Linked DNA regions of Homo sapiens. The protein of the gene in region 3 purifies or fractionates together with the protein of the main gene of each other region. This does not show direct contact. Each region holds a gene or a part of one and is shown on either strand. Other genes may lie near its edges.

What was found. The genes of interacting proteins can lie anywhere in the genome.
Region 1: the proteins of PWWP2A (region 3) and EZH1 purify together in Homo sapiens (affinity purification with mass spectrometry, with the first as the bait; one large-scale study listed by BioGRID). This does not show direct contact.
Region 2: the proteins of PWWP2A (region 3) and BRMS1L purify together in Homo sapiens (affinity purification with mass spectrometry, with the first as the bait; one large-scale study listed by BioGRID). This does not show direct contact.
Region 4: the proteins of PWWP2A (region 3) and LIN9 purify together in Homo sapiens (affinity purification with mass spectrometry, with the first as the bait; one large-scale study listed by BioGRID). This does not show direct contact.

What each region holds. Positions count from the first base shown.
Region 1 is NC_000017.11:42,710,541-42,714,040, forward strand, and holds part of EZH1 (histone-lysine N-methyltransferase EZH1), read right to left. Parts: intron 2,850-3,500; coding exon 2,669-2,849; intron 1,946-2,668; coding exon 1,749-1,945; intron 1-1,748.
Region 2 is NC_000014.9:35,864,338-35,867,837, reverse strand, and holds part of BRMS1L (breast cancer metastasis-suppressor 1-like protein), read right to left. Parts: intron 2,904-3,500; coding exon 2,839-2,903; intron 2,117-2,838; coding exon 2,077-2,116; intron 1-2,076. UniProt on the Homo sapiens protein: Involved in the histone deacetylase (HDAC1)-dependent transcriptional repression activity. When overexpressed in lung cancer cell line that lacks p53/TP53 expression, inhibits cell growth.
Region 3 is NC_000005.10:160,090,839-160,093,144, forward strand, and holds the end of PWWP2A (PWWP domain-containing protein 2A), read right to left. Parts: coding exon 1,544-2,306; 3' UTR 501-1,543; downstream 1-500. UniProt on the Homo sapiens protein: Chromatin-binding protein that acts as an adapter between distinct nucleosome components (H3K36me3 or H2A.Z) and chromatin-modifying complexes, contributing to the regulation of the levels of histone acetylation at actively transcribed genes.
Region 4 is NC_000001.11:226,285,165-226,288,664, forward strand, and holds part of LIN9 (protein lin-9 homolog), read right to left. Parts: intron 2,634-3,500; coding exon 2,500-2,633; intron 1,295-2,499; coding exon 1,169-1,294; intron 1-1,168. UniProt on the Homo sapiens protein: Acts as a tumor suppressor. Inhibits DNA synthesis. Its ability to inhibit oncogenic transformation is mediated through its association with RB1. Plays a role in the expression of genes required for the G1/S transition.

The sequences.
Region 1 (3,500 bases), on a different chromosome or scaffold from region 3:
TTACGTTGAGAACCTGTGATCAGGGAAATAGGTATGAGCTCCAAAATGAAAGCAAAGGGCACTTCAGCTCATGGTTCTGTTTTTGTTTGTTTTTTTTTTTTTTTTTTAAGAGAGAGGGTCTCATACTCTTGGCCAGGCTGGAGTGCAGTGGTGCCATCATAGCTCAATGTAGTATAGAACTCCTGGGCTCAAGCCATCTTCCCACCTCAGCCTCCTGAGTACTAGGACTACAGGTACGTGGCTTTTTTTTTTTTTTTTTTTTTGTAGAAATGGGGTCTCACTTTGTTGCCCACACTGGTCCTGAAATCCTGGCTTCAAGCGATCCTCCCACCATGGCTTCCCAAAGCACTGGAATTCTAGGTGTGAGCCACCTTGCCCAGTCCATGGTTCTATTAATTGTTCTCAGTACAGGAAGCATGAAGAAGAGGCCACAGAGTCTCCTCCAGAAGGTAGGAAGCCAAAGCATTGGGGTTCCTTTCCTGTTGGACATGCTGGCCCTGACAGCTGCCTCCTTGTCCCTGTTCTTCAGTCTGTCTTCTCACTGTGGTCTTTTCCTGTCTTTTCCTGGGCCAATCACTTGAGGTCAGGAGTTTGAGACCAGCCTGGCCAACATGGTGAAACCCCATCTCTACTAAAAAAAAATACAAAAATGGCCAGGCACATTGGCTCATGCCTGTAATCCCAGCACTTTGGGAGGCCGAGGCGGGTGGATCACCTGAGGTCAGGAGTTTGAGACCAGCCTGGCCAACATGGTGAAACCCCGTCTCTATTACAAATACAAAATTAGCCGGGCGTGGTGGTGCACACCTGTAATCCCAGCTACTTGGGAGGCTGTGGCAGAAGAATCACTTGAACCTGGGAGGCGGAGGCTGCAGTGAGCTGAGATCATGCCACTGCACTCCAGCCTGGGCAACAGACCGAGACTCCATCTCAAAAAAACAAAACAAAAAAAATTAGCTGGGTGTGGTGGTGGGCACCTGTAATCCCAGTTGCTTGGGAGGATGAGGCAGAAGAATCACTTGAACTTGGGAGGCGGAGGTTGCAGTGAACCAAGATTATGCCACTGCACCACTCCAGCCTGGGCAACAGAGCGAGATTCTGTCTCAAAAAAAAAAAAAAATTAGCTGGGCATACTGGCCTGCACCTGTAGTCCCTTGCTACTTGCTTGGCTGAGGGGAGAGGACTGCTTGAGCCCAGGAGGCGGAGGTTGCAGTGAGCTATGATCATGCCACTGCACTCCAGCCTGGGCGACACAGTGAAACCCTGTCTCAAAGACAAAATAAAGATAATCTAGTGATAGAAAATGTGGAGAATAAAATGACTGAAGAGGCTGGCGGAGTGGTGGAGGGAGCAGCAGCTGCAGCAGCTGCAGCAGCAGCAGCAGTGTGCTCATTAACAAGAGCCACAGAAAGACCTGGGAGTCCCTTCTGGGAAAGGGGTACACATTTAGAAAGGAGGCCAGAGCCAAAAAAAAGAAGCGAAAGAGTGTAGGACCCAGAAGCATTAAATAGAGTCCAGACAGAAATGAGCATTCAGCAAGGAGGAGGCGGGTCCCCAAACATCATTAGGCCTGGCACTTGCAGAAGGGCCATGTTTGGGAAACTCACAGAAGCACAGGCTCATCAGGGACTGAACTTAAGACAACTTCTCTCCAGACCCAGACACACAGCCTGGTAAGATGGCAAAGGGCTGGACAGAGCAATGCGTGAAAGGAGGGGCCCATTTGTTCTGCTGCTTCCAGATGGTACCTGCTTGCACGTCTTGGTCCCCAGAAGCCTGGCTATTGAACAGAAGTTGTTGAAGTAGGTGCCATGGAAGACTCGAAAAAGAGATTCTTCAGCCCCAGTCCATTCCACAGGCTCCGAGGGTGCTTCCACTACGCAGAGTTGAGGTGGGGCTGGACTAGCCTTCTGTTTTGTGGGAGTCTGACAGCGAGAGTTAGCCTCTGAGAAGGGAAGAAATAACAGAATCAGAAGAAGGTAGAATGCAGTTGTCATCAGTAGTTTGTCACAAACTCAGAAGTACTTCATTCTACTTTAAAAGGTAGAACAGTTAGGAATGAAAATATTCCCTATCTTTAGGCCAGGCATGGTGGCTCACGCCTGTAATCCCTGCATTTTGGGAGGCCGAGGTGGGTGGATTGCTTGAGCTCAGGAGTTCAAGACCAGCCTGGGCAACATGGCGAAACCCTGTCTCTACTAAAAATACAAAAATTAGCCAGGCAGGGTGGCTCACGCCTGTAATCCCAGCACTTTAGGACGCCGAGGCAGGCGGATCACCTGAGGTCAGAAGTTCAAGACCAGCCTGGCCAACATGGCGAAACCCCGTCTCTACTAAAAATATAAAAATTAGCCGGGCGTGGTGGCAGGCACCTGTAATCCCAGCTACTTGGGAGGCTGAGGCAGGAGAATCGCTTGAACCTGGGAGGTGGAGGTTGCAGTGAGCCAAGATAGCACCACTGCACTCCAGCCTGGGCAAAAAAGCGAGAGACTGTTTCAAAAAAAAAAAAAAAAAAAAAGAAAATATTCCCCATCTTTACTGTTTACAAAACTTGTAGAAAGAATTTATAATTTTTAAGAGGTAGTAAAGTTAAGTGTCAGGCAGTGATCCTGGGTTTACCAGAGTCCTTGCATGGAAAGAAAAAGTCTTCATTTTCTGTTCATCGTACCTGAAGAACTGGAGGCCCAGTCATTGCCTGTGTCCCTGTCACTGTCTCCTTCTTTAGTCTCAGCCACAGCAGAGGCTGAGGCATTGGAGCAGGAAGCACTGACTATGTGGTGCCTTCTCCGGCGACGACCAGAGCACTTGGAGCGGGGGTTGTGGAGCATGGCATACTCCTTTGCTCCTTCCTGCAGTGGACACATTACAGACAGGAAATAGGAACAGGCCCATCACCATATTGATCTCATCATCACAAACTTTCATCTTTACAACATCTGTCTACAATAATAGTGTCTTTTCTTTTTCTCTGTACCATATAATAAGTATGATCATATAACAATGAGAGCTGCTTAACAAAACTTACGTACTTTTTCACAAAAGAGTTGTCCTATAATGTTTTTTTGTTTGTTTGTTTTTTTGAGACAGGGTCTCTCTCTCTTGCCCAGGATGGAGTGCAGAGGCCTGCTCACTGCAGCCTCGAATTCCTGGGCTCAAGTGATTCCCTTGCCTCAGCCTCCCAAGTAGCTAGGACCACACGCACATGTCACCATGCCCAGCTAATGTCCTATAATCTTAAAAAAGATATAATCTATGCATCTGTGTCTTCAATTTTCCAGTGAGTTGTATCTAAAATTAACTTGCGTGTTACTTGTTTGGAATTTGAGAACACATTCTCCTATGGATGAAGAAATGAGATTCAGAGAGGGGAAGAAACTAGCTTGAGAGTATGCAGCTAATAGTTCCAGAGGGGTATAGGAATCAGGGCTCCTTGTCTCCCTAGGCCACTATTCTTTCCAGTCTACCACACTTTCTCTGTTTCCTTAATAAAATGTGTAATG
Region 2 (3,500 bases), on a different chromosome or scaffold from region 3:
TAACAATTAACATCAATCCATGCATATGTAAAAAAGGCCTAAAAATATTTCTTAAATAACAAACCTAAAATGTAATAAAAAGATTTATTCCTTACATTCTTTTACATAATCACTAAGTTTTTAATATAACTACTAAACAAAGCTAAACAATGAACAATAAATCATCAATTGACTAATTAAGTACCAGAAGGGGAAGCAGGTATGTTATCAATTACTAGTGTGAATTTTAAGTAGTATTTAAAATATCAATTGCCATATTTCAATTGAAAATTATACTTTTTATTTTTTCCCCTGCGGGCATCTGATATACCGAAAGAAGCAGAGTTTAATACATGTTCCAAGCATTCCCCAGGCTTTTAATTCTAAAAAGGAAATGTCCTAAGTACAACTTCTATTTTTAAATTCCAGAAATCATCTGGCATTAGTCAGATAACTCATACAGGAAAAAAAAATCTTTTTTATGGAAACACAGTGTCAAAAGCATACCATGAAGTCATTCAAATGTCAGCTCCTGAGAGGTCTTCCCTAACTACTCTACCCACTCCTCAGCTAATTGTTATATCAACTGCACAGTTCTTTTAGAGTAATTATTATAATCTGTAACTATCTTCTTAACTGTTTATCTACATATATATGATTCCACCTCCCCTAAAGAGGCTCCAGGAGATCCATATTTCTTTTACCATTGTATTCTCAGGGCCTAAAATACCATCGGGTATATTCATTCATTCATTCATTCATTCATTCAACAAATGTTGTCTGAACACTTCCTATACACAAGGAAGTATGCTGGGGAAAAAACTGTGACCAAAAGAGATATGGTTCTAGCCTTTGTGGAGCTTACAATCCAGTCAGGAGATAGACAAAATTAAAAAGTACAAATTGAGTGAAGTGCTATGAGTAAAACTAATAGGATACAATGCTGAAGATAAGAGTGGGAGGGAGACACACTCAACTATGATAATGAGATTCTCAAAAGGAATCTATTACCCAAAAATGTTAAGAACCACTGCTCTACAGGTCTAGGCAGCTGCTCTGGCAGTTAATTCCCCAGGGCAAATACTGCTGCAATTTCCTCACAAAATAAAAAGTTTAAAGGAATCATGGGGTTAAAAATAAAATGCAATTTTTTTTTTCTTAGAGATGGAATCCTGCTCTGTTGCCCAGTGTAGTGGTGTGATCATGGCTCACTGGAGCCTCGACCTCCAGGGCTCAGGTGATCCTCCCACCTCAGCCTCCCAAGAGGCTGAGACTACAAGTACACACCGCCAAGCCTGGCTAATTTTTGTATTTTTTTGTAGAGATGGGGTCTTGCCATCTTGCCCAGGCAGATCTCAAACTCCTGGGCTCAAGTGATCCTCCTGCCTTAGCGTCCCAAATTGCTGGGATCATGCTAGGCATGAGCCACCATGCCCAGCCTAAACAGAAATTGGTCTCTTATCGATTACTTAAGCTGTTTAAATGTGACTAGAAATTCCTTTCCTAAGTATTTCAAATATGTTTTTCTTTTTAGTCTAGCTTCATTGTCCTTAGAAGGATTAGGAAATCTCACCTATAGTGAAAGAAGGCAGAAACAGAGAAACTTATCCTAAACACCATCACATTTTGGCAGTGATTTTAGACTTCCAAAAAAAAAATCAAGGAAGTGTAACTTGATATGAATTTTACTAAGGCATATCAGCATTCTGATCTCTCTCCTCAGAAAATGCACATGCAGAATTTTGCACATAATTTCAGAGGATTCACAGAATCTCTGAAGCCAATCCACAAATTCCAAATACCTCCCCTATAGAATGACAGAGCCCATAAAAAACACTGCATAAATACTTTTTTGAGTTACTGATCCATTATTAGCAATAAGAATGTAGCTGAACACTGAAATAATTATACCACATTCAGAAATTTTGAAACTTTTACGTGAAGCAATGACTCCAGAAGAATTCCTCATAATTTCAGGCACGGTGTTCACTGATGAAATAAAACCACTGATTCAAGAGTTCTTTAGTACGTAGATAACAACCCTGATTCAACAAGTCTCCAAAGAGAATATTTCCCAACTCAGACTAAATGACTTACGTTCCGTTTTCACTCTGTGTGGCCCCAATGTAGCCATTGCCTTAATTAAAAAAAAAAAAAAAGAGGAAGAAAGAAGTCTGAGTTCAGACTGAAAATATATTTTGGTATCTATTTAATATATACAATATTACCGATTAACTCCATAACAAAGACAGTAAAGTATAACCATTAGCTGCTCTAACAAATTTTTAATGTCTAAGACCATAAAGAATATGAGGGATAACAATTTCTCCTAGAGGTGTTTTCAATACCTGAAATAATCTCTAATTCTCAACTAAGAAATTTACAAAAATGAAAAAATGTAATATGGAAAACAAGCCTCCACTTTCAGGCAAGAAAAGAAAAGCCTATGATTCTTGAATGTTTAATGATAGGATGCAAGACACATAAGGGTTCAAATGTTCTTTTGTTCAACAAATATTTATCAAGTGTTTTCTATAAGCCAGGACCAGCCAAAGGACTAGGCACAGATGGTGATGTTATTATTTTTGGGCAGACTAAATAAATGTTTTTTGGACTTTTCCATAAATTATTAGTTACATTATTATAGAAAAAATACAATCAAACTGCTGACATGTCTCTAACTCTTAAAATATCCTTGTAGTTCACTGCTATCTGTAATAGTATTAAATTGCCTTAGAAAAATGTTGCAAAAGCAAAGCATATTTACAATAATATTTTGATGTACTAACAAAAAAAACATAGAATCTTAAAAAGTAGACTATAAAAACATACTTGTGTTCCACTGCTCATTAATCATACCTTCCTAATTGTTGTCCAGTCTTCAAGAATATCAAGATCTTGTAGCATATAAACTATATATGGACGTTGAATAGTCAAGGTCAATTTAGCTGTAAGAATATCACACTTTGAATTATATTTCCAAAGTACTACATTTCAGAAAATGGAACGATGATTTATGAGCATAATGCTTTGGCATCCTAAATTCTGACTTCAAATTATTCTTCAAACCACTTAGTACCAGCATAAATACAGTCTAGTACTTCTGATGTCATAACTACATGCCCTTAATTCCATGATATCATTGATTGTAATATACATCACTAACACAATCACTGGTTTTTAAGGTGGAGGGGAAAAGATGGGGGTAGAGGGATGGTACCATAGAGAATGCCGAAACTGAATATACGTATTAATTTACACTCCAATTTTGGAAACATTTAAAAATGTTTTTAAAAAGTATACGAGGCTAGGCACAGTGGCTCATGCCTGCAATCCTAGCACTTTGGGAGGCCAATGCAGGCTTAAGCCCAGGAGTTCAAGACCAGCCTGGGCAACACGGCAAAACCCCATCTCTACAAAAAATACAAAAATTAGCCAGGCGAGTGGCACGTGCCTGTAGTCCCAGCTACTTGGGAGGCTAAGGTGGGAGGATCACCTGAGCCCGAGAGGTTGAGGCTAAG
Region 3 (2,306 bases):
ACTTGCCTCCACAGCCAATCAGATATATTTCTCACTACTAATACAAAGCTAAAAATGGAAAATAAGAAATCAAATCTTAGGGACAGATGGACCATGTAGAAAAATAGTAAGCTAAGTTACTAGCCCCAAAAGCAGTGATACATGAGGCAGAAAACCAAACAGAAGAGACCGGTTGTAATTACCCGAATGTAAAAAAAGGAAGCATGTGATGAAATATTAAGACTAAAAATTAAAATTCACACATTTATGAGAAATTGGCAGGAAGGGGATATCAAATCTAAAAGCATTATCAAACCTCTATACTACAAAATCTTATTTTGAGAATATACTGATTCATCTCTCATTATTTGAAGTTTTCTTATCTCAGATAATATATTCCCTGATAGGGCAAATAGCAAAATAAAAGTTTGATTTTTCATCTCTTCTAAACACTCTTACAAAGAATAATTTTCTACCATCTTGAAATTTTTCAAAGCTTTTTGAGAAACACACACAAATAATTTGGATTTAGTTGATTTTATTTACAGCTTTTTTTTGGTTTTTTTTTTTTTTTTTACATTTCAGAGCATTACACAATTACATTTTCTCATTTTCTGACCTGCAAACAGATACCTTAAACGGAAATTATTTTGTTTTAATTATCAAATTAGGTACATCCAAAATGCAACAATTACACATATGACAATTAATTCACAAAGTATAATTTTACTGGGACATATCCTAAGAATTTAGGAACAGCCAGTCAGGAGAAATCTGACCAAATTTAGCAATCACTATTTACAAATCCAAAATCAAACCTATCTAAACTCCCAAACCAGAAGCTTGAAAGTATTTATTAAATCCCCACTGGACGAAAGACAGTGATGACTAACACCTATCCAGTCTTGACAGTTTTAATCCCAAACACTGGGCTATTTCCCCAGTCTGTAACTGAATTGCAACCATCTGTTTGTCAAACACCTAACCATCTAACTTTTACACCATTATGCGCATAGAAAGGCTAAGTGTTCATTATTTAAAAAACAAGTAGTCATTAAATATCCACTATTCCCCCAGCTCACCAAGCCCTTATTGCAATCCCAAATATGCAATCTGTGTCACACAGTGACAGGCTGTATTTCATATATATATATGTGTATATATACATATATATGTGTGTATATATACATACACGGATATATATATATACACACACACACACGTATATATATGTATATATACAGTATTAGGTACAAATGGCAATTAACAGTCCCTACAAAAATTCAATTTCAGTTGAGGCTATGGCTCCTATGCCTTGGGATGGTTTCGAACTTCAAAACTGAAAAATACTGCTAAAATCTCACTTCCTTAACACAAAATTTGATTATATGTTCAGTTTAAGCTCTCAGTCTAAAAATGGCTATAAGGTAAGTATTAAAAAGCCAGCCAACTGAGTGCAACTTCTCTCTCCAATCTGGCCACGCTATTTTGTAGAAATTATTCCTAACTAGACTAGAAAATCTGTGGTGACTTCCAATGGTCTTGCCTACCTTACTGCCCATGTTCACGTTTCAAACTGTGTCAACAAAGCCCGCACTTCGGGGGTCAGCTGCTTGGCAGCCTTAGCTGCCTCTGTGATAGCCTTGCGATACAGGCCCTTTCTCTTCTTATTAAAGCGTGACTGGAAGTTTTCTAAAAAGGGGGAGAGTTGTGAAAGAGCAAGGAAAGATGTTGTTGGAGACCCAAACCATGAAATACGGGCCTCCTGTCGGACTAAAAGGCCGTTATCTTTCCGGCTCACAGTTATAGTAAGAATACGGGCTGGCCACCAAGGGAAGCCATATATCTTGGCCCAAACAATGTCCCCTACACATATGGTCCTGCCATCTGGTGTGACGCATTTAGAGACGTTTTTGGAAAAGACTTTCATTTTCAAGGAATTACTGAGCTTTTTCTCTTCCTTTGAAGAGGAGGAAGTGGAGGAGGTGGAAGGTGCATGCATACTGCCTGGAGGAAAATCAAAGCTTTCAGAAGAACTACACTCAGAGTTGGAAGATTTCAAATCATCTGTGCTATCAATGCTACACACTGAAGCACTGGAAGAGTCAGATTTCTTTTGATTTAGGGTCATATAAACAGAGATATTGTTTTTGCTGCCCTTTTTGCCCAATGTCTGTGGTTCATCCTGATCACCAGGCACATGCACTTCATTTGTGTCCTGAACCTCACTGCTGGCCTCTTCAGGGCCTTTTGAGGGACTCTGATTTTCTGAAGGGGCCTCACCTGCTGAGCGGGTAGAGGTGCAGCGAGACTGGGGCTTGGGTGCC
Region 4 (3,500 bases), on a different chromosome or scaffold from region 3:
ACAGTAAATAGTGACCAATATCCCACTCTGATGGACAATAATTAGAAACAGTGTAACTCAATTTGCTCAAACACGCAAAATGATAGCAAAAAGTCACCAAATGGCTACTGTAATTACCAAAGGCCATAAATTATGAGTATGAAACACACTAAATAACATATCAAATTTTAATTTTGTTATTATAAGAAATATTAAAAACATCATCATCAAGGTCATCTTGATGACAGTTTAATTAAAAGTTCTCTCTGTATTTCATCACCATCTAAAGAAATCATTAAATCTAAATTCCATTTCTATTTGTCCAAATCACTTTATATTTACAGACCTTCCTTGAACTTTCCCACCATTTAAAATGAAAAAGTCTTGCACATACTTTTTACCAGGCAGATAGACATAATGTGAGAACTAATGATCTAATTATTCTTCTAACATATTTCCAATTTTCACTCAAAAGTAATATAAGGTTTTCCAATGTGTTACCAGGATAACACTGGAAAAGAAAAAATCATTTCACATGAAGAGCAATTCTCAGGAAGTAACATATTAGATAGATTAATTTGTTTTCTACTTTTATATAAAATAAAATAGGCACTTCTGGGAAGGCTCCTGAGATTATAAAGGATTTCACAAAAGATAACAAAAATGTACACAGAACTTTACAGCATCCTTAAATACTTTTTAGGACATTCTTAAATATTTTTTGGAACACAGAGGGACATAGATAATGTAAAACTAAAAAATTACGTTGAAAACCTGTGATCCTAACAAAAATGAAATTGTGCATTTAATTATAAGATGCATACGTATAAACAGCACCTACATTAAAGTTGGTTAACAGGATATATTTAACATATAATCAATTATTCTGAAAAGTTATGTTTTGGTACTAGTCATTTTAAAGATTAAAAAAATCAATGTACTAATGATACTAACAACTATTATTTATTGATTTTATTTTTTAATTCTTTTTTAGAGGAATGGTCTCACTGTGTTGCCCAGGCTAGAGTGCAGTGACTATTCACAGGTGTAATCACAGCATACTACAGCCCTGAACCCCTGGCCTTAAGCAAATACCCCATCTTAGCCTTCCAAGTAACTGGGATTATAAGTACATGCACTGCTACTGGCTTGATTTTATTTTAAACAAAAACAAAAACATTATTTTTACCTCCGTGGTTTTCCCATAAGCCGCCGAATTTTTCCCCATTCTACTCTTGTTAACTTTCTTGTTTTCAAATTAGGAAAAGATTCCTTTAGACATACACAGAAGTCATTATCACCTTCAAAAAGTGGTCTGTAAAACAGATATAGTATTTTAATGGTTACATACAATGTGTTACTTTCTTAAAACACATAAAATCACAAAATGCTAAACTTTCACTTCTACCCCATATATATATATAAACTGGCACAAATTCAAAGTGCTAAAACTAAATCCTTGGCATTTGTGAAACATCTAATGTCGTGTAAAAGTTGCTCAGGAAATATTATTTGTGTTGTGATTCCAAGAGACACTGATTTTTGTTCAATCTCTTATACAGGTATATCCTTTGGGAGGCTATCGTGGCCCTGGCCTTGTATCAGGTGAAGATAAACCAAGTTAGCTACAAAGTATCTTTGTCCCAAAGGAATACCATCACCAAGGAGTCCTCTTTGGAATTAAACCAGTCTTGGGACACTGGAGGACTCCAGAGGGTTAGATTAGCTTGGGGGATCCCAGAAGAACTCAGATTACACTGAGACACCCTGAAAACTCTCTTAAGCCTATGGACAAAAATAAAACAATTCTATTCATGAGTCTGGGAAACCAGGAACCAGTGTTGGCAATGATACATAAATGCCTTGGGCTCAAATATGAACATTCATGAGATTCACAAGCTCCAGAGTAGGCAATTGGTATAGAAAACAGAGAAGGGAAGAAAATATAAATATCCAGCAGAGCAAGCAGCAATGACTGGCATATGAGGAAGGATTATAAATAAGAACTTTTCCTCAGTAAATTCCATTGTTGAATAATTGTATTTCAGCCAAATCTCATACTACGTCATACTTAAGCATATGTGTATACCTAGCGTGCTTAAGTACCACATCCAAACTAGAAAGACTACCCTCTTAAAAATCTTAAGCCATTTTTACCATTAGTAATGGTTTCTCTATGATTATACCAGCACTTAACATCTCAATTATAAAATGAATCTCATTCACTGCAAATAATGGTGTTTTAAGGTATCTCTACTCCATAGTCTTTAAGAATTCTAACACAGAAATTATACCGTAATCAATTCTTCACAAAAATGTACAGTTTTCTTCCCCAAAAAGGATAACAGGGAAGAAAACTATGACAAATAGAATAGATCCAACTGGAATGTGGAACAGAAAAATGAATTTAGAGAAAAATAAGATCAAAGTAGACCTATAGAAAATGTTGTAGCTTAAAACACTTGAAAAACTTAAATTTCTGATTCAAGTAATATTCATAATATAAGCCATGATACATACTTATCTATATTTGAATAGAACCACTCGTATATACACCATTTATGTGCTTTAGGAAGCTTGAGCAGATTACGTAATCGAAAACCAATCTTCTGTGAAGCTTTCTTATCTGGTGTTGACATTGTTGCTGTAAATTTCTATACAATAAAAAAAAGAGATTAATTTATGGCTCCATTAAGTAAAAATGAACATTTATAACCCTGAATAAATTTGCAAAAGGTAAATTATGTTTAAGTACTTAAAAAGGTTCACTGATTCACTGATATTCAACATGGAATTTTGTTGCTGTTTTAAACACTCCGATTATTTTTGATTATTGCCTTTTTTTTTTTTGACAGTCTTGCTCTGTTGCCCAGGCTGGAATGCAGTGGCACAATCTCGGCTCACTGCAACCTCTGCCTCCCGGGTTCAAGCTACTCTCTTGTCTCAACCTCCCAAGTAGCTGGGACTACAGGCGCACGCCACCACACCCAGCTAATTTTTGTATTTTTAGTAGAGATGGGGTTTCACCATGTTGGCCAGGCTGGTCTCAAACTCCTGACCTCAGGTAATCTGCCTGCCTCAGCCTCCCAAAGTGCTGGGATTACTGGTGTGAGCCACAGCGCCCAGCTTAGATGGATACTTTTTTAACCTAATAAAACATTTCTCCCCACTCCAACCCAAAAACCAGTATCGTAATATTAAAAGACGATGAGAACGACAAATATTTCAACTACCACCACTAACCTAGTATGACAAAGATTTCAACTACCACCACTATTTCATAACACTGTTTTGAAGGAATTGGCCAATCAGGTAAGAAGAATAAAATTTAGAAAGAAGATAAAACTACCATTTCCTTGTAGGTGAAAACTCAAGAAAATCAACTGTAACAATTAAAAACAGTAAGAAAATTTAATGAAATGGGTAAATACAAAGTTGATATACAAAAACCATGATTCAAAAAAATCACTATATGTAAATAATAACTGGACAGGCCATAAGAGTTTATATCCTGTTTATAA